Homo sapiens: one gene and its partners. The protein of the gene in region 1 purifies or fractionates together with the protein of each later gene. This does not show direct contact. Each region holds a gene or a part of one and is shown in the gene's direction. Other genes may lie near its edges. The genes, in order: SNIP1, PNN, RNPS1 and NKTR.

Evidence for each region.
Region 2: the proteins of SNIP1 (region 1) and PNN purify together in Homo sapiens (affinity purification with mass spectrometry; 6 studies listed by BioGRID and IntAct, with this or other methods). This does not show direct contact.
Region 3: the proteins of SNIP1 (region 1) and RNPS1 purify together in Homo sapiens (affinity purification with mass spectrometry; 6 studies listed by BioGRID and IntAct, with this or other methods). This does not show direct contact.
Region 4: the proteins of SNIP1 (region 1) and NKTR purify together in Homo sapiens (affinity purification with mass spectrometry; 5 studies listed by BioGRID and IntAct, with this or other methods). This does not show direct contact.

The regions. Positions count from the first base shown.
Region 1 is NC_000001.11:37,533,949-37,537,328, reverse strand, and holds the end of SNIP1 (smad nuclear-interacting protein 1), read left to right. Parts: 3' UTR 1-2,880; downstream 2,881-3,380. UniProt on the Homo sapiens protein: Required for pre-mRNA splicing as component of the spliceosome. As a component of the minor spliceosome, involved in the splicing of U12-type introns in pre-mRNAs. Down-regulates NF-kappa-B signaling by competing with RELA for CREBBP/EP300 binding.
Region 2 is NC_000014.9:39,171,112-39,178,255, forward strand, and holds the start of PNN (pinin), read left to right. Parts: upstream 1-4,142; 5' UTR 4,143-4,168; coding exon 4,169-4,281; intron 4,282-4,667; exon of another isoform or gene 4,668-4,769; intron 4,770-4,966; coding exon 4,967-5,038; intron 5,039-5,415; coding exon 5,416-5,484; intron 5,485-6,300; coding exon 6,301-6,373; intron 6,374-6,481; coding exon 6,482-6,576; intron 6,577-6,729; coding exon 6,730-6,805; intron 6,806-7,144. UniProt on the Homo sapiens protein: Transcriptional activator binding to the E-box 1 core sequence of the E-cadherin promoter gene; the core-binding sequence is 5'CAGGTG-3'. Capable of reversing CTBP1-mediated transcription repression.
Region 3 is NC_000016.10:2,265,092-2,272,361, reverse strand, and holds the start of RNPS1 (RNA-binding protein with serine-rich domain 1), read left to right. Parts: upstream 1-4,235; 5' UTR 4,236-4,305; coding exon of another isoform or gene 4,306-4,307; exon of another isoform or gene 4,308-6,252; intron 6,253-7,270. UniProt on the Homo sapiens protein: Part of pre- and post-splicing multiprotein mRNP complexes. Auxiliary component of the splicing-dependent multiprotein exon junction complex (EJC) deposited at splice junction on mRNAs.
Region 4 is NC_000003.12:42,631,673-42,638,707, forward strand, and holds part of NKTR (NK-tumor recognition protein), read left to right. Parts: intron 1-928; coding exon 929-1,151; intron 1,152-1,888; coding exon of another isoform or gene 1,889-1,907; coding exon 1,908-2,063; exon of another isoform or gene 2,064-2,064; intron 2,065-2,940; coding exon 2,941-3,028; intron 3,029-3,548; coding exon 3,549-3,694; intron 3,695-5,195; coding exon 5,196-7,035. UniProt on the Homo sapiens protein: PPIase that catalyzes the cis-trans isomerization of proline imidic peptide bonds in oligopeptides and may therefore assist protein folding. Component of a putative tumor-recognition complex involved in the function of NK cells.

The DNA.
Region 1 (3,380 bases):
TTGGGGCGAACCCCTGAGCAGAGAATCTTACTAGGCTTTGGTTATCACCAAAACAACCTCCAGTATATACCAAAGCTTTGACTTGTTTGAGCTCTTGAGCTTAGAAGTTGATTTTGCACTTATTTTTTTGGGGGGTGGGAATGTACTGCAGTCAGTAAACATTATTGACTGTTTAACTTAAACAGATGCTTTATGGCACCTGCTCAAGCCCGTGACTGTACAGAAGGATCCTGGTTGCTACCAGTGGGTGCTGATTCAGCATCACAAGTGACTGAAATTGGCTGTGGATCTGTTCTTTGTGAAAGAATTCCTGATTTCTCCATGGAGCATGTACACAACAATTTTGATCATATTAACTGTACTTCAGTTTTGCATTTTTATTCAAATGTTATCTCTTTTTTTCTTTGAGAAATAAACTGTCACTGATGTGACAGCGTTCTTTCTTTATTCTAATAACATGTATAGATCTAAAGCAGGTTGTGTTGTTTACATGTTTCTACACATTTCATCCTTTAAAAAGTTGTTGAGAGAGGTTGTATTTACCTTCCCAAGGTTGGAAAGCAGGGGAATTTCCCAGTGTCCTAGTTTTCCACCAGAGGAATATGTGTAAGTAGCAAAGTATTTGCTGCTTACATATAGTGTGTATGTATGTATATATGTAAATTGTGTGTTAAAGAGCTGATACTGATTTTCATATGACAATGTTAGGCAAAGGCCTCCCTGCATTTGAAGAGCAGGTTTTCATTTATATGTATTTTTGGGATAAAAAAATAAAATTTGTAAATATAGCCCCATTTCAAAGAGTAATGCTTTCCTAGCGTAGAGGACCTTGTGTTCATAGGTCTGTTTGCTGCTAATGGAGCCTTCTGTCAGTACTTTTGAGATAAAAGTAGGTAGCTGTTTTAGAGTGTTGTGGGGCAGGTTATATCGTTGGCCTCCAAGTCAGTGGAATAGCAGATGGTGACATGGAGGTGGGTTGTGGGGAAAGGTGGTGAAGCAGCTCAATCAGTGTTACTACTAATTGTTCCTCTTGGGTTGAGACTTAGGATACTATTAAATTTGATTGTTTTCCATTGTTTTTATACCCATGTGTGCTCAGGGCTAAAGATTGGCTAGTGGGAGGGGCAGCTGACTAATGTTCATTCAGAAGAAGTTAAAAGATCCTTTGAAAAGTGAACACTTAATAAGGTCATTAGATGAAACGTAAGTTGGGCCGGGCATGGGCACAGTGGCTCATGCCTGTAATCCCAACACTTTCGGAGGCTGAGGTGGGCAGATCATCTGAGGTCAGGAGTTCAAGACCAACCTGGCCAACATGGTGAAACCCCATCTCTACTAAAAATACAAAAATTAGCTGGGCGTGGTGGCACATGCCTGTTTTAATCCCAGCTACTCGGGAGGCTGAGGCAGGAGAATCGCTTGAACCCGGGAGGTGGAGGTTGCAGCGAGCTGAGATTGTGCCACTGCACTCCAGCCTGGGTGACAGCGAGACTCTGTCTCAGAAAAAAAAAAAAAAGGTAAGTTGAAGAATGTGTTCTACATTGGCCACTGTAACTGCTATTTTCTTCATTTTGGTATGTGCCATAGATCATATATATGTGCTTGTCTGAAAAGTAGGTTTGTTTGGATGAACTTTTCTCTTGATCCAGACTGACGGTTTTCTCTTGAGGGTTTAAGCACTAATCTGGTATCTTACTCTAGGATCTCCTTGTTCAGTCTGTGCTGCAGTAGCACTACTTTGTGGTAGCCTTGAGTTTTGCTACAAACTTCATCCTGGTGGGCACTGTGATAGATGACCACTTTGCCTACATTTTTCAGTAAGAAGTCCTAATTGTTTAGTCAGTTTTTATTTTAGTAGAGGAATAACGTCCTGGATTAAGAAATTCTTTATGCCACATATCTGAGAAGGTGGGTTTTTTTGTTGGTTTGTTTGTTTTGAGATGGCGTCTCACTCTGTCGCCCAGGCTGGAGTGCAGTGGCACCATCTTGGCTCACTGCAACCTCCGCCTCCCAGTTTCAAGCGATTCTCCTGCCTCAGCCTCCCAAGTAGCTGGGACTACAGGCACCTGTCACCAAGCCTGGCTAATTTATATATATAATTTTTATTTTTTATTTTTTTTTAGTAGAGATGGGGTTTCACCATATTGGCCAGGCTGGTCTCGAACTCCTGACCTTGTGATCCGCCCCTCTCAGCCTCCCAAAGTGCTGGGATTACAGGTGTTAGCCACCAGGCCTGGCCTGAGAAGGTGTTTTTTTTTTTTTTTGGTCTTGTTTTCCCTTACCCCTTTCTTTGAAGAAAGGGTGTCAAAAGACATTACCTGCCTCTAAAGCCAGATATCACCAGCAGACTTCTTAAAGTGGACATAATCCTAGAGCTTTCATTCTGTTTAGAAGTTCATGTTCATCTTAGCCATTTGGAACTTCTTCATTCTCTATCTTTTCTCCACGGTGGCTGGGCTTGTCTGCAAATCATTGTGTCAAAATCAAACTATTTTCAAAACAGCCCTTTGCTTCTGAGCCCCTCCCCTAAGTCCTCTGTGGGGGTCCATGATTCTGCAGAGGTATGGGACAGAATCTTCAGATTTTACCCCTTGAGTCTCTTCCTAGTCATATCCTGGTTCCCTCATTCTAATATTGACAAAGGATGACTCATTAAGTGCAACTGGTTATGTAACTTTCAAATACTTTCATTGTGTATGTCAGGATCTGAGGAACAAAATGATGTCATTTAATCGGAATCTAAACGTGACACAAACAACGTGCCAGCAATACCTGCTTGTGAAATAATGTTCTGAGCCCACAGTGTTCCTGGGTATGTGAGTTTATATCAAGTGAAAAGGCTGCTTAATTGACATTAAAGTTTTGGAATGTAAAGCTTCATTTGGTCTCTTGGGTAAAATTTCCAGTGTATTTATCAAATGGGAAACAATTCTAAAAACAGTTGTTCACATTTACTCTAAAGTGAATTAATCCAGTCAGCAATAGTTGCATAAGTTTATGCAGTTGGTTTACAGCTAAGTTAGAAAGGGAGCAATAGCCAGGTGTGGTGGTATGTGCCTGTAGTCCCAGCTACTTGGGAGGCTGAGGCAGGAGGATCACTTGAGCCCAGGAGTTCAAGACCAGCCTGGGTGATATAGTGACACCTCATCTTTTAAAAAAAAAGAAAAACAAATAATTTGGAGATGGGCCGCACCTTGTGGAAGAGATGACAGTTGAGGTATACCTTAGAAAATAGTTTGATTTGGAGTCAGTAGTAAAGGAGGACATCATGCCAGACTGAGCAGTCCAGGGACTAGCAGGACTGCAGTGGACTGTGGATAAGACCCTATAAATTAAGTTGTTTACCTCAAGACCCATGACACGTCAGTGGTAAACCTGGG
Region 2 (7,144 bases), on another chromosome or scaffold:
GGGACAAGGGAAGTGGAGCAAACGAAAAACAAGATACACTTGAACCGGAAAATACAGACTAATCAGAGGATTAGGTGAAAAGTGCTATAGAATTCAGAAAAGCGATGTCACTGCAGGATGGAGTTGCTAATAATCTACAGCAGTGTGAGACAACTGTAGGAATTGTCCCACTGCATGTGCAAATAAATACACATGCTACATCATAGTATGTACATCTTAAATTTGGCAAATTCAACCGTAAGCATGTTGCTTAGCCTGTGATTAGTTCTTCCATTGGTAATTCACAAAACAAAATTTTTCCCCAATTGTCCCTGTTGTTTTCCCCCAAATTAACATACCGCAAGGTGGCTCATGCCTGTAAAATCCAGCACTTTGGGAGGCCGAGGCACGGGGGGTGGGGGGGATCACGAGGTCATGAGTTTTGAGAGCAGCCTGGCCAACATGGTGAAAACCCGTCTCCACTAAAAATACAAAAATTAGCCGGGCGTGGTGACAGGTGCCTGTAATCCCAGCTACTCGGGGGGCTGAGGCAGGAGAATCACTTGAACCTGGGAGGCAGAGGTTGCAGCGAGCAGAAATTGTGCCACTGCACTCCAGCCTGGGCGACAGAGCAAGACTTCGTCTCAAAAAACGAAACACACACACAAACTCTTCATGCCCTTTCACAGGAATTTAAGATCATGTTCCAAAATTTTAATTGTGGTAGGTTTTTTTTTTAAGCATGTCCCTTCTAATGTTTGAATCAGTTTATTCCATTCATCACGTAAATCCAGCATAAAAGCTCCACTTAAGCCTTTGAAAACACTAAATTGTGTAATTTTGAAGAGTATTTTGCCATGGTAATCTTAATTTTTCCAGCACTAAATTTTCAGTTATGCGAAATCAGGTCCTTTATGTCTAGATGACATTCTTGCCCTCATCACTACCATCAAGAAAAAGGAGTCCAAGTCCACCACACAAGTCAAAAAGTAAGTAAATGGCCAATTTATCAAAGTTGACTTCTCCAACCACAATAACATGAGGCTTTTAAAGTACGTTTCTGGATAGAAAGGAAACTTATTTAATGAGGACCTACTAACTATTGAACACAGCATCCTACTTATCCTTCTCCATAAAGTTAAATTGCCAAGGCTCCTAGGAATAGATCCTATGGAAGCAAGGACAGTGAGTGTGGTGTGTGTGTGTGTGTGTTTTGAGACAGAGTTTTGCTCTTGTTGCCCAGGCTGGAGTGCAATGGCACTATCTCAGCTCACTGCAACCCCGCCTCCCGGGTTCAAGTGATTCTCCTGCCTCAGCTTCCCGAGTAGGTGGGATTACAGGCATGCACCACCAAGCCCAGCTCATTTTGTATTTTTAGTAGAGACGGGGTTTCTCCATGTTGGTCAGGCTGATCTCGAACTCGTGACCTCAGGTGATCCGCCTGCCTCGGCCTCCCAAAGTGCTGGGATTACAGACTTGAGCCACTGTGCCCAGCTGTGTGTGTTTTGTTTTGTTTGAGACAGAGTCTCACTGTTGCCCAGGCCAGAGTGCAGTGGCATGATCTTGGCTCACTGCATGCAACCTCCACCTCCCGGGCTCAAGCAATTCTGCCTCAGCCTTCCAAGCAGCTGACACTACAGGCACTTGCCACCATGCAGGACTAATTTTGTATTTTTAGTAGAGACAGGGTTTCATCATGTTGGCCAGGCTGGTCTTGAACTCCCAATCTCAAGTGATCCGCCCACCAAGGCCTCCCAAAATCCTGGGATTACCGGGCCGACCATACATGCAAACATTCTTACACTTGCTGAATACGCTCTACTATTATCACACTCTCATGCCTCAGGTACTGCCTAAGGTTGTACACAGACCTGTAATAAGATCAATGAGGCTAAGTATGCTCACAATCAGAATTAGATAATTGTCAATCTTCATCCCCATTATTCATCTCTACATTTTTTTCTCCTATAGTACTTCCCGCTTTCTAACATGCTATACTATTTATTTATTTATTTATTTATTTTTGAGACAGAGTCTCACTGCTGCCCAGGCTAGAGTGCAGTGGTGTGATGACAGCTCACTGCAGTCTCAAACTCCTGGACTCAAACAATCATCCCGCCTCAGCCTCTCCAGTACAATTTTTAAAATTTTTATTTTTAGAGACAGGATCGTTGCTATGTTGCCCAGGCTGGTCTTAACTCCTGGGCTGTAGCGATTCTCCCACCTCAGTCTCCCAAGTATCTGGGATTACAGGCACAATCCACTGGACTTGCTCAGAGATCTTTATTGTACACTGATATACCCAAGTGCCTAGAATAGCACCTGGCACATAGTGGGCCCTCAGTATTTGTTGAACTAATGAATGATCATTGCTCCTTTGGAAGCCTACAAACCCCACAGAAGCAGGAATCACAACTATCTTGTTCTAGGCTTTATTTTCAAACCCTAGCTTACTGCTGATACACAATGGAAGCTCTAAAAGATTGCTGGATTAAAGTGGTAGCTTGAGTTAATTAATACACTGGGCCCACTAATTCTTTGTACAAGGAAGATAGATGCCTGGCTGAGATTATTTAAAGCATTGTTTCTGTGGGAAAGTGTTTTGTTTTTTTGTTTGTTTGGGACGGAGTCTCACTCTGTCGCACAGGCTAGAGTGCAGTGGTGCAATCTCGGCTCACTGCAACCTCCGCATCCCGGGCTCCCGAGTAGCTGGGATTACAGGCGTACACCACCACTCCCAGCTAATTTTTGTATTTTTAGTAAAGGCGGGGTTTCCCCATGTTGGCCAGGCTGGTCTCCAACTCCTGGCCTCAAGTGATCCACCTGCCTCAGCCTCCCTAAGTGCTGGGATTACGGGCGTGAGCCACTGTGCCTGGCCTGTGAAAAAATGTTTTCTGAGCTTCAATTTGTATATATATTTATAGAACAAAACTAGTTCCTACATTGGCAGTGCAGGTAGGGCAGAACCAGAAGCGGGACAACACACACAGACACCACTAACAACAGGGCCGCTCCCTTAGGTCTGGTCTTAACCAGCTCTAGGCCAGGTGAAGAGGCTAACTCAACCATGACTGCGTGTCTGTCTCGCCATTGCTTTCTTTTCTCTAGTATAGATGCTCAGCGTCTAATCAGAGACTGATTCTCAACTGGCGTGACCAAAGGACAGTTATATTATCTCCAGTCTCAATTTCCTTATCAGTAATAACAGGCATTTTATCCACACTTTCAGTTTGTGAGAAATAAGGCATGTAGACGGTTTCACAGAGGGTCGGGAACAAGATCAACCCCTAACAAACGTTAGCCATTATGACTAATGACTTTTACTAGTTTTCATTTTTGTCTTCCCTCTTCTCACTTTAACCTAATCAGGCTGGGCGTGGTGGCTCACGCCTGTAATCCCAGCACCCTGGGAGGTCGAGGCAGGCGAATCACCTGAGGTCAGGAGTTCGAGACCAGCCTGCCCAACATGGTGGAATCCGGTCTCTAATAATACAAAAATTAGCCAGGCGTGTTGGCGCGCGCCTGTAGTCCCAGGTACTCAGGAGGCTGAGGCAGGAGAATCGCTTGAACCCGGGAGGAGGAGGTTGCAGTGAGCCGAGATGGTGCCACTGCACTCCAGCCTGGACGACAGAGCGAGACTCCGTGTGAAAAAAAAAAAATTAACCTAATAGAGGAAAGCACGCGCCCACCCCCTCTCTGAGCATGCGCACCAACAGAATAGCCGCGCCCTTTCCTAATTAAATCATTAACCAAGGTGAGGGTAAGGAAGAAAAGGAGGCTTGGCTAAGTCCCACTCTGATGTGATCACGTTAAAACGGTGTAAGGCACATTACATCATAGGTTAAAAGGCCTAGAAAACTCCGCGCTCCCCTTGCCAGAACTGCAGACTCGCGAGCCTAAGTCTCCGAGAACTCAGGGATTGTGAAACCCGCCCCGACTCTGCGCTAGCAGCGGGATCCAGGCACCCGCAGCTAACTGGGGAGGGAGATGACTGCCTGGCTGACTTTTCATTGGCTCAGAGTCACAAAGGCTGCAGGTTCTTCCCCCTTCCGGTCGCTGAGTGGTTGAGGCCGGAAGACAACGCTCATCGTCATTGGCTGAGCCCGGCTGTCAGTCCTTTCGCGCCTCGGCGGCGCGGCATAGCCCGGCTCGGCCTGTAAAGCAGTCTCAAGCCTGCCGCAGGGAGAAGATGGCGGTCGCCGTGAGAACTTTGCAGGAACAGCTGGAAAAGGCCAAAGAGAGTCTTAAGAACGTGGATGAGAACATTCGCAAGCTCACCGGGCGGGATCCGAATGACGTGAGGTAAGGGCCTAACGGGAACTCGGAACTCGGAGCTCGGAGAGGCAGCCCTCAGGTCGGGGTGAATTGGGGGCGGGGAGGGCGGCCAGCCTTAAGAAGACTGGAACCTCGAGGCCTGTTCGCGGGGCGGCGGGTAAAACCCTGTTGTCGCCGAGGTGGAGAGGCCCCAGGTCCCCTCCGTAGAGCGCTGGTCTCAGGTCCCTGAGGAAGGAGAGCGAGGCCTGGGTGCGCCGGCATGCTTTCTTGGCCTGTGAGAAGACCCGGACTGCTGATTCCCGCTCTCGGCCCTGCAGGCCCGGAACTGCAGCACAAAGCCCCTTCCCGCTCCGGCGGACACCCGGCCCGTTGCTGGCCCCGAGACCCTGCCGGGACGCAACAAGCCGCCTTACCCCAGCTTCCTGTCCACGTGCAGCCTCCTCGGGGATGGCGGGATGGGGACCTGATCCAGGCTTGTTAATGTGTGGGGGCATCGAGGTGAATATAATTTCTGTGACACAGGTCCTGGAGAAACGAGGAAGTTAAATGAAATAGTACTTCCTGTCCTGTTTCAGACATTTAGATTTATTTGAAACTATCTTTTTGGAACTTTTGTGATTTTTTCTCCTTATGATCCACATCTCTGAAAGTATTTGGGTGCGACTGTGTGTGTCTACATATGATTTTGCACTGATTTGTAAATCTTTTACAGGCCCATCCAAGCCAGATTGCTGGCCCTTTCTGGTCCTGGTGGAGGTAGAGGACGTGGTAGTTTATTACTGAGGTAAGATTTCCTTTGGACTTTACTCATGCTGAAACTACTGGTACTTTACTAAATATGTTGGTTTGAACAAAACCTGTGATAAAATCAATAACCCAGTGTTTGTCGTCTTTGTTTTGTTTAATGTTGTAATAGACTAGATTTCTGTATAAATATAGTTATCCTGAAAAACTGGAGGTTGAAGAATATATTAAGTTTACCAATTTTGAGTGAACTTAATTCTTATAAAGTAACACTATAAAAGCATTTTGGAATGAATGCCCGTTTAAGGCTACTTTAGTTGGAAAGATTTTTGAAAGTTTAACCATATTCTCTTGTCAAATGGAAATACCATTTATCTTGTATTTCAAGTGTTTTATGTTGAACATTTTAAATTTCAGGCGTGGATTCTCAGATAGTGGAGGAGGACCCCCAGCCAAACAGAGAGACCTTGAAGGGGCAGTCAGTAGGTAGGTTTAAAAAAAGATTCCTGAAGGCTTCTTTAGTTTCTGAGGTACCACACAAATATAAATGTTTATTAACAATAATTCTGTTTCAGCAATATTAAAATTGAGTGGTATGCCACTCCCTGCCCCCCCCAAGTTCTGTTGGTATTTGACTGAACAGTTGACTATCAGTTCCCTCAAAACGCAGTTCTGCACTCATGATAACCTAAATTTTATCCAAATAAAGGTCATGTGAAGAGTAAAATTGGAAAAATTGTCAATTAGTACCATTTTTTCTGACTTGTACTTGAAAAACTTAACCAGTTTGAAATACTTAGAAAATACAGGAGAGCAAAATTGGTTTGGGCGTTAGTTCACACATTGTAGTATCCTTTCTCTGCTGGAGGAAAGAATAAAATGGGATGGAGACTTGATAGAACAAAGCTTCTGGAAACGAGTCCTAGAAGAGAGGGCATTTGCCCTTGGTGTGCAGTTACATAAATACCTCAGTGGTCATTTAAATTAATTTTTGGCCAGGCACAGTGGCTCATCCCTGTAATCCCAGCACTTTGGGAAGCCAAGACCAGCAGATCACTTGAGCCCAGGAGTTGGAGAACAGCCTAGATACATGGTGAAATCCCATCCCTACAAAAAGTACAAAAAAGTTACCCAGGCATGCTGGCTCACGCCTGTAGTCCCAGCTGCTTGGGAGGATGAGGCAGGAGGATCACTTGAGCCTGGGAGGTCGAGGCTGCAGTGAACCGTGGTGGCACCACTGCACTTCAGCCTGGGTGGTATAGTGAAACCCTGTCTCAAAAAAATTAATATTTTCTATGACAGGCTGGGCGGGGAGCGTCGGACCAGAAGAGAATCACGCCAGGAAAGCGACCCGGAGGATGATGATGTTAAAAAGGTATTGAGATTGAAAGAACTTAAATGAATGTAGTACCTTCACTTTACTACATTTAAAAGCACACCACTCATATGCTAGTTAAATTACTGAGATTTTCTTTTTCTGCAGCCAGCATTGCAGTCTTCAGTTGTAGCTACCTCCAAAGAGCGCACACGTAGAGACCTTATCCAGGATCAAAATATGGATGAAAAGGGAAAGCAAAGGTATTTCCCTGGGGGAAAAAAACTCTAGTGAAATAATGCAGTTATAAGGAAAATCAAGGGATTGTTCAAGCATCCTGTAGTATTTCTTAGAAAATGATGGGTTTAAATGAAATGGATCCTGTTGACAGTAAATTTTCTTATTCTGTTCTTTAGGAACCGGCGAATATTTGGCTTGTTGATGGGTACCCTTCAAAAATTTAAACAAGAATCCACTGTTGCTACTGAAAGGGTATTTATCCAAGTTTTGTTTTGCATCATATATTTAAGTTATCAAAGTAGTAGATTAATGTTTTTTTTAAAAAATCCTTAAAGCTCTTTTAAGACCTAACTGTAAACCTGAAACAAAGCCAAGTAAAAACTTGGTTTAACTTCTTATAGAACAGCTTTACTTAAACATTGTGTTGGAATATAACAGTTGTTGATATCATAGCTAATAGCCTTGAAATTTAGATATGTGAAAAAAAAAAGCCTCAAGTCTCCATTTCCTTAAAGACAAATTACAGTCAGTACCAAGTGCTAAGTTCTAGTTAGTTGGTATCCTGAATTGAAAATGTGAAGCGGCCAGGTG
Region 3 (7,270 bases), on another chromosome or scaffold:
CTTGAACCCCAGCCAGGGCAGCTGCTGTCTGCTGCCCCACCAGGTAACGCACCGACCCAGCTGCTGTTCAGCTCCCCCTCTGGGCCAGCACCATGCTCATGGCATAGGCCGGCTGGGCCCTCTGAGACCCCCACTCCCACACAGACTGGTCTGCATGGAGGCTGGTGCAGCCTGTGCCGTACAGACCCTGCCCGGCTGCACTACTGGCCAGAGCCCCCTGCAGACAGGCGGCTCGAGGGGAGCTCCACCATGCAGGAGATGGCCCAGCACTGCAGTCACTTAGGCTGCTCATCCCTCCCCGAACTGACATGTCCCTCCCTCCAGATGCCCCCCACCGCCGAACCCCAGCATGCTGGGCATGCTCTGGCCATCCCACACAGGGATCAGGGTGGGAGGGCTGGAGGCTGCCTGTCAGGGGCAAGGCCTCCTCCAGGAGGTAGGACGGGGTGGTGCAGGTGGGGTCCCCTCACCTGATGGGCCCTCGAGGCCAGGCTGTAGGCAGGCAGGAGGGGGCTGAAGCAGTGGGGTCAGGCCCGGGGAGCGGGGGCCCTGCCTTCCTTCCTCAACACACGGGGCTGCCCAGGCCCCGCTCCTGGGGCCGGGCCCACACCTCACAGACACTGGTGTTGGATGCTTCGGCTTGAAGGAGCTCCAAATGGACTAGCCGCAGCTGCCCCTGGGTCCACCTGGCCCAGGCAATACCACAGAATCACCAAGGCTCATCTAGCCATGGGCCCAAACCCAAGGCCCTAAGAGGCACCCCGGGTGCCTCAGTCACAGTCCCAGGCAGCTCAGGTCCCAGGCGGCTCACAGTCACCATCCTTGACTTCATGGTAGCAGAAATGGAGTGCTTTGAGCTTGTGATGAGCACAGGCTCCCAACCCTGGGAGAGTTCAGACATGCCCACTGGAGAGGCCCCAGGCCCTGATGATACCCACTCCTCAGACATGCAAACCTGGAGCCAGGGAGGCCCCAATGAACTGCATACTCTCCCAACAGACCAAGCTCACCCCACACCAGCGCAAGGCCCTTTCAGACCCAGCCTGGCCACCCCCATGGACCTGGCCAGCACCTCCCCCAGCCCCACCCTCTCCAGACAGGCACCAGGCTGTGGTGACCCGCCTCTCAGCAGCTCCTCCTCTGATGCCTCCCCACGGTCCAGTCGTTACCCCCTCGTCCACCTGACTGGGCTGCGCATGGCCTCAGTGCAGAGCCAGGTTTTAGTAGTGGGTAAAAGGGCTCCCTTGCTGTGCTTTACCAGAGAATGCAACACCCCCAAAGCTCCTTCATGACCCACTGTGACCTGCAGCACCACCAAGCCCATCCTCATCCCTGTGTCCCAGGCCACCAGCCTCTGAGGGCAGGCACTGCAGGAGCCACCGGGCCACAGAGGATGGAGGCAGGGAGGACATTCTGCCTTCATGAGGGCATGCTCTCAAAGACAGAGCCGCCCCAAACTGTCAGCAGGTGACCCTCCGCTCTGGGAAGGCAAGGGGAGGAGCTCAGGGCCGTGGCCAGAGCCCACGAGAAGCCCGTGCCCAGCTCAGCAGGTGACCCTCCGCTCTGGGAAGGTAAGGGGAGGAGCTCAGGGCCGTGGCCAGAGCCCACGAGAAGCCCATGCCCAGCACTGCAGGGCTCTGGCCACTGCCTAATGCCCTCCATGAAGCCCTGCCTGCCCTTCCAGCAAACCAGGGCCCCTGAGGCTCCAGAAACCCCAGCTCCACTGCCCTCAGCCTCCATGGCCTTAGCAGCCTGGCTCTGGGGCTGAGCTCCTGGAAGGGCAGGGTGGGGGTAGGCTCCTGAGTTTTATTTTCTCACATTTCTTCCAGACATGCTTCTGCTGATCCTCAAAATGGCAAAAGCCAGGATGCTCAATTCTCAAAGCTCAACAGCTGATGGCACATTTGATAACAAAAATCAGTAATATTTAGAAACAAATTTGATTAAATTCGTAAGTGCCTGAATAAATCATACTTGTAGATTTAATATAAAATGTGTGAAAGCTTATTCGCAGGCCAAATGACATTACTGCAGAGCATTAAAAACCAGCAGGGGGAGGGCTGTCGGCCCAGCTGGTGCTGCGTCACGCCCACCCATGTCATGTGGGGTCACCAGGCTGCCCCTGCCCACCAGGTGTCAGTGGGGCCCTGGGCATGGGCTCTAGGTTTGGGGCCTTTTAGCACCTCTGACCACTGGACTCCAATGCCACCTCAGAGAATTCCGCCTATGCCTGCCTGGACCACCGAGGCTGCCCCCTCCCCTAGCGCCGACTCTGGGGCCCCTTCAGCAGGGGGGCGGCCCCTCTGTTCCACTTAATCTTCCATGCCTGGGCACAGCAGGTGTGACAGTAATGCAGAGACTCTAACTCACTTTACATGTCATCAAACCCAAATCCAACGGGTACCCAAACCAGACTGATGGGCCTGCCAGCCTCCACCCACAGGAACACACTGGTGACTTACTGCAGCAGACTCGGGAGGTAGCTCCTCCTCCTAGCTGCCTTTGTCCCCAACTCCTTGGACATCCCTTAGCCCAGGGTGAAGGGTCAAGGGCACACTTGACACCCTCGGACAGGGCCAGAGGGAGTGGGTCTCGGCAGGAAGTCACCAAGAGCTGGCTTCCCACACAGGGAAGAGGGCAGTGATGGCAGACCACATCCCCACTATCTATCCATCCATTCACCCACCCACCCACTCCGGGTCACCAAGCTGCACCCTGTCCTTTGCTCTGACATCTAAAGTCTCCAAGTCATGCTGGTTCTCTCCTCCCAAAGATCGGCTTGGATCTGTTCCCTTCTCCCTTCCTTGCTGCCACGAAGCTGTTCAGACAAAGTCTGAAGCTCAGCGCACCGTCAATCCCTCCACAAATAACCACAGGGCAACGACTGCCTGACAGGCACAGCAGAGAACAAAACCCGCCCTCGGCCGGGGGCGGTGGCTCACGCCTGTAATCCCAGCACTTTGGGACGCCCAGGAGCGAGCACTTTGGGAGGCCAAGGCGAACCTAGGAGCGGATCACGAGGTCAGGAGTTCTCGACCAGTCTGGCCAACATAGTGAAACCCTGTCTCTACCAGAAAAATACAAAAAAAATTAGCCGGGTGTGGTAGTGTGCGCCTGTAATCCCAGCTACTCGGGAGGCTGAGGCAGGAGAATCGCTTGAACCCGGGAGGCGGAGGTTGCAGTGAGCCGAGATCGCGCCGCTGCACTCCAGCCTGGGCAACAGTGCGAGACTCTGTCAAAAAAAAAAAAAAATCCGCCCCGTCAGTGTGGGGAGTTGACGCGGAGCCTCCTGCCTGCACCCCTACAGCGTCACCCCCTCCTCTGTCCCTGCCAGAGGCGCCACCTCTGGACTCTCCCAGGGTCGGACCCTGGTCGACAGTGCTCCCTGCCCGGACCCTGCACCGGCCGATGGATGAAGCCTCGGCGCTGCGCCGTTCACACGCTCCGTGCCGCTGCCGCGAAGCTCGCGCGGGCCTGCGAGCCGGTACCCGGGCCTCCCTTCCCTGCTTCCAGCGAACCTCGGCGCCTGCTGTTCCCCCGCCGGGCGCGCCCTTCCATTCGGGTCTCAGCGGCAGTGTCACCTCCCCGGAGAGGCCCGCCGTTGCACCCCATCTCCCACTCTCAAGCTCGTCGCTCTTCCTGCCCGCACAGCCCGCCTGCCGCGCCCACCCGGTGGAGGTCCGCCTGCCGGGAGGCCGCGTCCACGGGAACACCCCAAACGCCACCAGTGGATTTTGACCGCACGAACGCACGCCCTGCCCCAGCCCGTCTCTCCGAGCTACTTCCGCCCTGCGGGCCCCCACGCCCCGCCACGCACGGCCGCAGAGCCTGCGAACCCCTCCTGTGCTACCACCCCGCCGGCCTCAGCACAGCCCGGCCCGGAGCCCCGCCTCCACCGCCGGCGACAGGGGCCGGAGTCTGCCCGGGCGGGCCCAGTGCGCCCGCGCAAGGAAAGGGGCGGGGCACGGGCGCGTTAACACCCTCCGCGCCGGAGGACGAGCCTCGGTCATCGCGCTGCCCTCCCAGGTTCAACAGGCTACCCATGTGCCCGCTCCAGTAAGCGTGCAACCAGCCCGGTCAGTCCCAGGGACTTTACCGGCTAGGAGACACCTTGAACGTCCCCAGCGCGACTCCCACAAACTGCCTTGACTCTTTAACGCTTCCTCGCTGGCGCCCATTGGGCCAGGCGTTTACGTCATCGCTGCGCGCCGGGCGGCGGCGACTTCCCGCTCCTTGACTCTGACGTCAGAGCGGCGCCGGCCTCGGCGGCTGAGGAAAGCAGGAGGAGGTGGCGGCGGCGGGAAGATGTAAGTTGGGGCGGAATCCGACTGCATCCGTGTTTCGGGGGCTGCCCGGCAGGCCCGGCAGGACGCCTCGTGAAGCCGGTCCACTCCTCAGCCCCGCAGTGCGGCGGTGGCCTGGCAGCGCGGTGCGGGCTCCGAGAAGAAAGAGTGTGGCCCGGGGCGGGCGGAGTGGGAGGTGTCGAGGCCGTGGCCCGGAAGTGGTCGGGGCCGCTGCGGACGGAAGGGCGCCTGTGCTTCGTCCGCTCGGCGGTGGCCCAGCCAGGCCCGCGGGACTCAGACCAGCGGGGAGCGCGGCCTCCGCCCTTGGGGCCCTCCCGCCGGGCCGGAGACCCAAGCCCCCAACGCCAGGCCCTGCCCTGGAAGCGCTCGCGGCCCGGCGCCTGGACGGGGGAGTTGTGAGTGAACGCGGACGGGTAGCGGCGAGGTCGGCGTGTCGGGCCGGTGTCGGCGGGCGCGGAGTTTCTTTGTGGGATGCGGTGGAAGGTCGGCCGATCCCCCCTTCGGAGTCATTAATTCAAACGTGTACTCCGCGAACGTTTCCCGGACTCCCGTGTGCAATTATCGGCGCTAGGCCGTGGGGATACGGCCCACTATGGACCGAGCACGGTGGCCGAGCTCAGTTTGATGGGTTACCCCAGAGGGGCGGATACGGGAAGGTTAAGTTTGTTGGAGGAGAAACGTGGAGTAGGCTTTTTGTCTTGATTCCGCATGAACTGTGCCTGAAATGTACTTTTAAATGGGGAAGGTGCTCTGAAGATTTGTGCCGAAACGCCCTCTCCTCGAGATTTAACTAATTGTTCTCTCCTCTCTCTGGCTGTTGGACGCGCACCTTTCCGGAGGATGGGGGAGGTAACCGAGGTCCTGAGCCGGTACCTGAACTTGGGTGAACAGAGAACCTCAACTTTTGCTTTCTAGCACTCGACCGCACCCAGCAAGGCGTCCGCTTACTCAGTGGTTCTTAGTGTTTGGAGTGCTTAAGAATAACTGGTGGTGTTTGATTTCACCAAGTACATTCGGGCAGATCTTAGTTCTTGGGGGGGTGGGGCTGGAATCTGCGGGTGTGACCTCCACTCTAGGTCTGTGCTGTCCAGCCAAGTAGCCATTGGCCACATGTGGCTGCTAAGCATGTGAAATACAGCTAATCAAGACTGAAATATTAAAACACACACCAGTTTTAGAAGACTAGGAAAAAAGCAAACTTTTATTAGATGTTTATGTTGATTATATGTTGGAAAGATAATATTTTGGATGTGTCAAACGTTAAAAATTAATTTCACCCATTTTTGTGACGTGGCTACTAAGGAATTTCAGGTGATGCTTGTGGCTCCTCACACGGTTTCTATTGGACAGTGCTGCTGCAGGTGATTCGAAGGCGGGTGGGTGCAGGAACCCAGCTGAGAGTTCAGAAATTAGTGTAACTTTGGAGACAAGTGTCTGTGGGGGAAGGAGCCTCCGGACGTGGAGATACAACTCTTGCTCCTAACATTTATCGAGTCTTTAATTAATGCCCTGGGTAACTATAAGGTTGGAACTGTAATTGTCACCATATTGATGATGAGAAACTTGAGAAAGGATAAGTGACTTGTCTAAAATCACACAGTAAAACCTCAAATCAAACCCAGGCCCTCTGGCTCCAGACTCTAAATTATACTCTGAATGATACTCACTGATTGTCCGAGGACACAAAGAGTGTCGAGGCACTATCTGCTGGGTGTCTGCAGAACCTTACTGTTCTAAAGCAAAACATTTTACCCCTGGACAAGAGCAGCAAAGGTGGCGTTCGGCCCTCCTTGGCTCTCATTTGACTGTTCAAAGCCAGGTGCTTTTCTTTCTTGGGTCAGAACGTATTTTCAGCAGCATTTTGAAGCACCCCTGGCGTGCACTGCACAGGGAAACCAGGACCACATTGGTGTGCTGTGTCCTCCTTACCAACTGGCTCTTGGAGAAGGTGAGACAGAAGTAGCTGAGACTCCATTCCTGAGATCTTCACTTAACAACTCCTGCAGCTTGTGCAGAGCCTTACTAGAAATACTGAAGGCAGAAGTCCCTGGAAAATAGGGCCCATAACTAATTAGTAATTTGTTTTTGAGTAATTTGTTACCGTTATTTGAGCACATTCTGCAGTCCAGGCATTTTGCTAAACTCTTACATGGCAGGCAGTCTCTCACGCAATTTCAATGCCTACTTTTTTTCTCCATCTTATTTTTGAAAAATGTTAAAAAAAACACAGGAAGGTCGAGTTATACAGTTAATACTCACATAAAGACCACTTAAGGGCCGGGTCTGGTGGCTCACGCCTGTAATCCCAGCACTTTGGGAGGCCGAGGTTGGCGGATCACGAGGTCAGGAGTTGGAGACCAGCCTGGTCAATATGGTGAAACCCTGTCTCTACTGAAAATACAAAAATTAGCTAGGCCTGGTGGCGTGCATCTGTAGTCCCAGCTACTCGGGAGGCTGACGCAGAAGAAATGCTTGAACCCGGGAGGCGGAGGTTGCAGTGAGCCAAGATCGCACCACTGCACTCCAGCCTGGGTGACAGAGCAAGACTCTGTCTCAAAAAAAAAAAAAAAATCAGAGGTTAATAGTCTATAAGTTACGTTTCTGCTATATTTGCTGTATGGTGTATCTAGCCACCCATCAATCTTATTTTTTCTTTAAAAGTGAATTGCAGACTTGCATGTGTCTTCCCCTGCACTCAATATGCATATTATTAAAGTACAGTGCAATAACTGCTTTTTAAAATGATTCTTCTACTGCTTTTTAGATGTTCATATGGTACATTTCATCTGCTTGCTTTTGGGTATTAAGTGTTTTGATGCTGGTACCAGTCGCTTTTGAAATGATTTTTGCTTCCAGTCACATCCAGTGTATCCTAAGGGGAAATTGCAATAAAACAGGAGATCTAATCCTATCTGGAGACCACCCTTGAGTTAGGTTTTTCTCTGTTCTGCATGTGAATGTGGTGC
Region 4 (7,035 bases), on another chromosome or scaffold:
TCCCTTTGAACCATAGTTTGCATTCATGTCACGCCTGCACAGAACCCTCCAAGGACTCCCATCTTCAATCATCCAAAGCAGAAGTCTTTATGGTGGTCTCTAAGGCCCTGGCTGGTCTGGCTCTCTGCTGTCTCTCTAAACTCTTTTCCCTTATTCATTGCCTTCCAGGCACATTGACCTTTTTTCAGACATGCCAACCACTCAGGGATTTTGTGCTGCCTATTCTCTTTGTCTGGAACACCCTTTGTTAAGATATCTGCATGACACTGTCCCTTGCTCTTAAGTCTCTGTTCAAATGTTATGTTAAACTACCCCTAGTCTTCCTATTCCCTTTACACTGCTTTGTTTTTCTGTCTTAGCACTTAATCATTTGTCATATTATGCAATTCTTTTTTTTTTTTTTTTTTTTTTTTTGAGACAAGAGTCTTGCTCTGTCACCCAGGCTGGAGTGCAGTGGCACTATCTCGGCTCACTGCAACCTCTGCCTCCTGGGTTCAGGTGATTCTCCTGCCTCAGCCTCTGGAGTAGCTGGGATTATAGGGATGCACCACCATGCCTGGCTAATTTTTGTTATTTTTAGTAGAGACATGGTTTCACCATGTTGGCCAGGCTGGTCTTGTACTCCTGACCTCAAGTGATTTGCTCACCTTGGCCTCCCACAGTGTTAGGATTACAGATATGAGTCACTGCACCGGGCCTATTTCTTGTTACTTGACCCAACAAGAATATAGGCTTCATAAAGACAAGGGACTTACTACCTTACAATCTTGCCAGTAATTTTATTATAAACTTGAAAAAAACTGTCTACATTTCATTTTTTGTTTGCTGTATGTAAAGCATATTTTATGATATTCAGTAATCACATTTTTTACTCTGAAAGGTAGGCACTGAATTTAGTACTAATGTTTTTATTAATGTTTCTTAAAAGTTTTTGAGAAAAAAAGGAAGAAACCAACTCATTCAGAAGGCTCGGATTCCTCTTCCAATTCCTCCTCTTCTTCAGAATCATCTTCAGAAAGTGAACTTGAACATGAGAGAAGCAGAAGGAGGAAACATAAGAGGAGGCCAAAAGTTAAACGTTCTAAAAAGAGGCGAAAGGAAGCAAGCAGTTCAGAAGAGCCAAGGAATAAACATGCAATGAACCCAAAAGGGTACGTGTAAAACACCAATGTACTCTTACCTAAAAACAAACACTCTGGAATGGGAAAAGTATGTATAATTCTATAAACTCAATTTTATTACCTGTTATTGAAAAAGGATAGCACTTTTTAAACTTTAAATTGAAATCTGGCAAATCTAGGAGTAGGTAGCATAGGCATTTCATTTCAAAGATTTGTGTGTTTTCAGTTTTCGGGTGAAAATAGTCCTAAGAACTCTTTTTTTAAGAGATAGGGTCTTGCTCTGTTATCCAGGCTGGAATACAGTGGCACAATTATAGCTCACTGCATCCTCCACCTCCTGGGCTCAAGAGATCTTTCTGCATCAGCCTCCTGAGTAGCTAGGACTACGGGCGTATACCACTATGCTTGGCTAATTTTTAAATTTTTTGTAGAGACAGGGTCTTCCGCTATGTTGACCAGGCTGGTCTCTGACTCCTGTCCTCAAGCAATCCTCCCACCTAAGACCCCTAAAGTACTGGGATTACAGGTGTGAGCCACAATGCCTGGCCTCCTGGAACTCTTAAAATAAAAAAGTTAGGATCATTTAACAATTTTCCTATCAAAATTCTAGTCTTTGGGTTTTTCACTGGGTTGATATTGTTCTCTTTGTGAAAATCATATAACTCTTTTGAGTGAGACTTGTAAGCTATCGTTAATTATGCTGTTGTTTTAGTAACTAATTTTATGTGCTTTTATTATGAAATGCAAACATTATACATTTTAATCAGTGACTTGGTTTGTTCTAAGTCACTCTGAGAGGAGTGATACCAATGAAAAAAGGTCAGTTGATTCCAGTGCTAAAAGGGAAAAACCTGTGGTCCGCCCAGAAGAGATTCCTCCAGTGCCTGAGAACCGATTTTTACTGAGAAGAGATATGCCTGTTGTTACTGCAGAACCTGAACCGTAAGTAGGATGACTAAACTATTTATTTTTATTTCTCCGATAACACTGTTCCGTCAGCTCATTGCATTCCACACTCATGTATGGAACATGATCCATGTTTGAAGCACATTGAAAGATAGTATGGGAGTATTAGATTAATGAATGATACGTAGGAAATATGGGGGATACCAGATTATTGAGTGATATGTACCCTACCTTTCAGAATTCACATTCTAGCAGGGAGAGGAGGTTGGGCAAGTTGGTCAGGGAAGCCCTTATTGGGGATCTGGAAAGATTTTATTCCTGATCTTCTTGCCTTTGCCTTTTATTAGAGGGGTGAGGTTTTAGTTATCAGAATAGAGAGTTAGTTGAATTCTTTGGATCCATTTGAGTGATGAAGCATGGGTTCCAATTTGAATAGTGCATAATTAATTGCATGATGATTGGAGATACAATTTAGTATCATAAATAAGTTACTTTTGTTAACTTGTTCAACAATTACTTCCTGCATTGGAAAAGTGAATGTGTCGCTTTAGATTTGGTCTGAGAAAATAGTATTTAATGTATTTTGTGTGTTAGACTCAAGTTTAGAATTATTGAAAGAAAATGTTTCATGAACAGAAATATCATAATGGCTGGTGTCATTGATAAGTTCCCTATGAAGAGTTATTTTGAAAGCTGAAAAGTATAAGAGTCCTTATTTATAATTAGCTCTCTGCATAAAGTTATCATTTAGTTCATTAAATATTTTTTAAAGCCTGATATTGTCTTGTTTTAAAAAGCTATTGCAAAATGGCATGTATCTTTGAATTAATAGCTTAACATAATGTGTTTTCATTATTAAAAATTCTAGCTTCTTTGCTTATTTTTAATTTTCATCACAATCTTCTTTTCCTAGGAAGATTCCTGATGTTGCACCCATTGTAAGTGATCAGAAACCATCTGTATCAAAGTCTGGACGGAAGATTAAAGGAAGGGGCACAATTGTATGTGTGATAAGACTTTTTTTGATATTATGTATCTAATAAAAAATTTTTACCTATTTTCAAAGTCCTAGCGTTAATTTTAGATATAATACAAAATCTGTTCAAGGAACTAATTGTATTTTCCATGGTTATGGGAAGGTATTGCTGTTAGATCAAAGTATACTGCTGTGTTTGAATGGGTTTAATTGAGTATGAAAGGAGGAACATGTGAAACCATCAGTGAGTATGCTGAGAAATCATTAAGACTTTAAAAAGGAAAATTTTATGTGGATTACAGGTGAATCTCAGCCTTGCCCATCTCTTTTAATGCCTTGTTTGAAATAACTTCACCTGAACCTAAAATAAAAGTTAAAAACTAAAAAAAAAAAAAAAAAAAAAGAACTTTAGACCATCCTTTTGGTAACTTCAATCATTACCTTTGATGGGATGATCTGAGATTGGGTCTTTTACTTAACTCTGTCACATAGCAGACTGTCGTGGAGAGGCATTTTTTAAAATACTATTGTTTTTGTTTTTAAAGCGCTATCACACACCTCCAAGATCAAGATCCTGTTCTGAGTCAGATGATGATGACAGCAGTGAAACTCCTCCTCACTGGAAAGAGGAAATGCAGAGATTAAGAGCATATAGACCACCTAGTGGAGAAAAATGGAGTAAAGGAGATAAGTAAGAACTTTGAGTATAAGCACAATCCTGTGTCTGTTATATTTTAAATGTTAAAGGGATTGGATACAATTCTGGACTTTTCATTAAAGATTCAGTGAAAGATTCACAGTCAGACTGTGACCAAAGGAAATACATTTGGGACTACTTGATGAAAGTAGTACTGTTAACTAGTTGGGCTTTTAAATCAAAATCCTGTTTTCCTTAACAAAAACTATAAGCCTGTGTCTTTTAATGACCTCTTAGTCAATTTTAGAAATAATTAGGACTTAGAGGCCGGGCGTGGTGGCTCACGCTTGTCATCCCAGCACTTTGGGAGGCCGAGGCAGGCGGATCACGAGGTCAGGAGATTGGGACCACAGTGAAACCCCATCTCTACTAAAAATACAAAAAATTAGCCGGGCGTGGTGGCGGGTGCCTGTAGTCCCAGCTACTTAGAGAGGCTGAGGCAGGAGAATGGTGTGAACCCGGGAGGTGGAGCTTGCAGTGAGCTGAGATCGTGCCACTGCACTCCAGCCTGGGTGACAGAGCGAGACTCCGTCTCAAAAAAAAAAAAAAATAATTAGGACTTAGAAATTATATAGCAGATTCTTTCCTAGCCAGCCAGGTCACTGATGAGTTCATTGGTAAATAGGAAAACCTGCACTCGGTGTTCATGTTGACTGTTGATCGCAGAGACTTGCTTTTTTAGAAGTGTACACATCTCTTACCTTCAGTGATGTCCCACAGTTGAATATTTATTTTAGGAAGGGGATAGGCCCCAGAATAGCTAGTGAAAAATATACTAATGGGACCCTGTGTAATCTTCCATGGTAGTATTCTCTTTTTCTCTGGGGACATCCTGCAGAGTGGTTTGGAATTGTGAAAAGGAGGAAAAGGAATGCATCTGCTGTGTAGAAGCGGCTCAGACACAGTGGTGCTGAGGACTTTCAGTTCTGAGCCTTGACATTAACACTCAGATTGTAACCTGTATCTGTTTTTGTGTACTTTTTCCTCAATTTCTGTTTTAAGTAGTTTACAGTCTTAGGGGAAATCTGGATTACCTGTCTGAGGTGGAGAAAAAACAAGCTTCATGCTAGTTTCAAGCAGCTATCCTGCATCTTCAGAAAATCAACAAATTGTTTGAGACCTTGGTTTGACTCACCCTCAAAAACTGTCCTAGAGGCAGAGGGTTGTGAGCAGATAACAGCCAGGAACTCTTGTGATTTGAGTTCAGCAGTGTTCTTGTGATTAGTTGGTTTGCTTTTCAAAAACATTTTCCTAACAAATGTAAGGTTCTTTGCTTAGCTTAAAAAAAAAATCCTTTTGTAAGTGAATTTGTTAGTAGTTCTTAGTGTGTGTCTCTGAAAGTATAACAAGACCAGGCCTATAACTCTGATTCACGCTTCCTGCGTGTGCTTAAAGTGTTAATGGGGTCAAGAACTTTGTTGTTAACAAAGCTGTGTCTTAAGGTGTAGAAAACATGCTTATAAATCACCGCATGAATATTATGTCCTTTCTATAGGTTAAGTGACCCCTGTTCAAGCCGATGGGATGAAAGAAGCTTGTCTCAGAGATCCAGATCATGGTCCTATAATGGATATTATTCAGACCTTAGTACAGCAAGACACTCTGGCCACCATAAAAAACGCAGAAAAGAAAAAAAGGTTAAGCATAAAAAGAAAGGGAAAAAGCAGAAACACTGCAGAAGACACAAACAAACAAAGAAGAGAAGGATTCTTATACCGTCTGACATAGAATCCTCAAAATCTTCCACTCGAAGAATGAAATCCTCTTGTGATAGAGAAAGGAGTTCTCGTTCTTCCTCATTGTCATCTCATCACTCATCAAAGAGAGACTGGTCTAAATCTGATAAGGATGTCCAGAGCTCTTTAACCCATTCCAGCAGAGACTCATACAGATCAAAATCTCACTCACAGTCTTATTCTAGAGGAAGCTCAAGATCAAGGACTGCGTCAAAGTCCTCATCACATTCTCGAAGTAGATCAAAGTCCAGATCTAGTTCCAAGTCTGGGCACCGAAAGAGAGCATCAAAATCACCAAGAAAAACAGCTTCTCAGTTAAGTGAAAATAAACCAGTTAAAACAGAACCTTTAAGAGCAACCATGGCACAAAATGAAAATGTAGTAGTACAACCAGTTGTAGCAGAAAATATTCCTGTAATACCACTGAGTGACAGTCCCCCCCCTTCAAGATGGAAGCCTGGACAGAAACCTTGGAAGCCCTCTTATGAGCGAATTCAGGAAATGAAAGCTAAAACAACCCATTTGCTACCCATCCAAAGCACTTACAGTTTAGCAAATATTAAAGAGACTGGTAGCTCATCATCCTACCATAAAAGAGAAAAAAATTCGGAAAGTGATCAGAGCACTTATTCAAAATACAGTGATAGAAGTTCAGAAAGCTCACCAAGGTCAAGGAGCAGATCTTCTAGGAGTAGATCTTATTCCAGATCATATACAAGATCACGTAGTCTAGCTAGTTCACATTCAAGGTCTAGGTCTCCATCATCTAGATCTCATTCACGAAATAAATACAGTGATCATTCACAGTGTAGTAGATCATCTTCATATACTTCTATTAGCAGTGATGATGGAAGGCGAGCTAAGAGGAGACTTAGATCCAGTGGGAAAAAAAATAGCGTTTCACATAAAAAGCATAGCAGCAGCTCTGAAAAGACACTTCACAGTAAATATGTCAAAGGTAGAGACAGGTCTTCATGTGTGAGAAAGTATAGCGAGAGCAGATCATCTTTAGATTATTCTTCAGACAGTGAGCAGTCAAGTGTTCAGGCCACACAGTCAGCCCAGGAAAAAGAGAAGCAGGGCCAAATGGAAAGAACACATAATAAACAAGAAAAAAACAGAGGTGAAGAAAAATCCAAGTCTGAACGGGAATGCCCTCATTCAAAAAAAAGAACTTTGAAAGAGAATCTTTCTGATCACCTTAGAAATGGCAGTAAGCCCAAAAGGAAGAATTATGCTGGTAGTAAATGGGACTCTGAGTCAAATTCAGAACGAGATGTCACTAAAAACAGTAAAAATGACTCCCATCCATCCTCTGACAAGGAAGAAGGTGAGGCCACATCCGATTCTGAATCAGAGGTTAGTGAAATTCACATCAAAGTCAAACCCACAACCAAGTCGTCCACAAATACTTCACTGCCTGATGATAATGGTGCTTGGAAATCAAGCAAACAGCGCACATCAACTTCTGACTCTGAGGGGTCCTGTTCCAATTCGGAAAACAATAGGGGAAAGCCACAAAAGCACAAACATGGGTCAAAGGAAAATCTTAAAAGAGAACACACCAAAAAAGTGAAAGAGAAATTGAAAGGGAAAAAA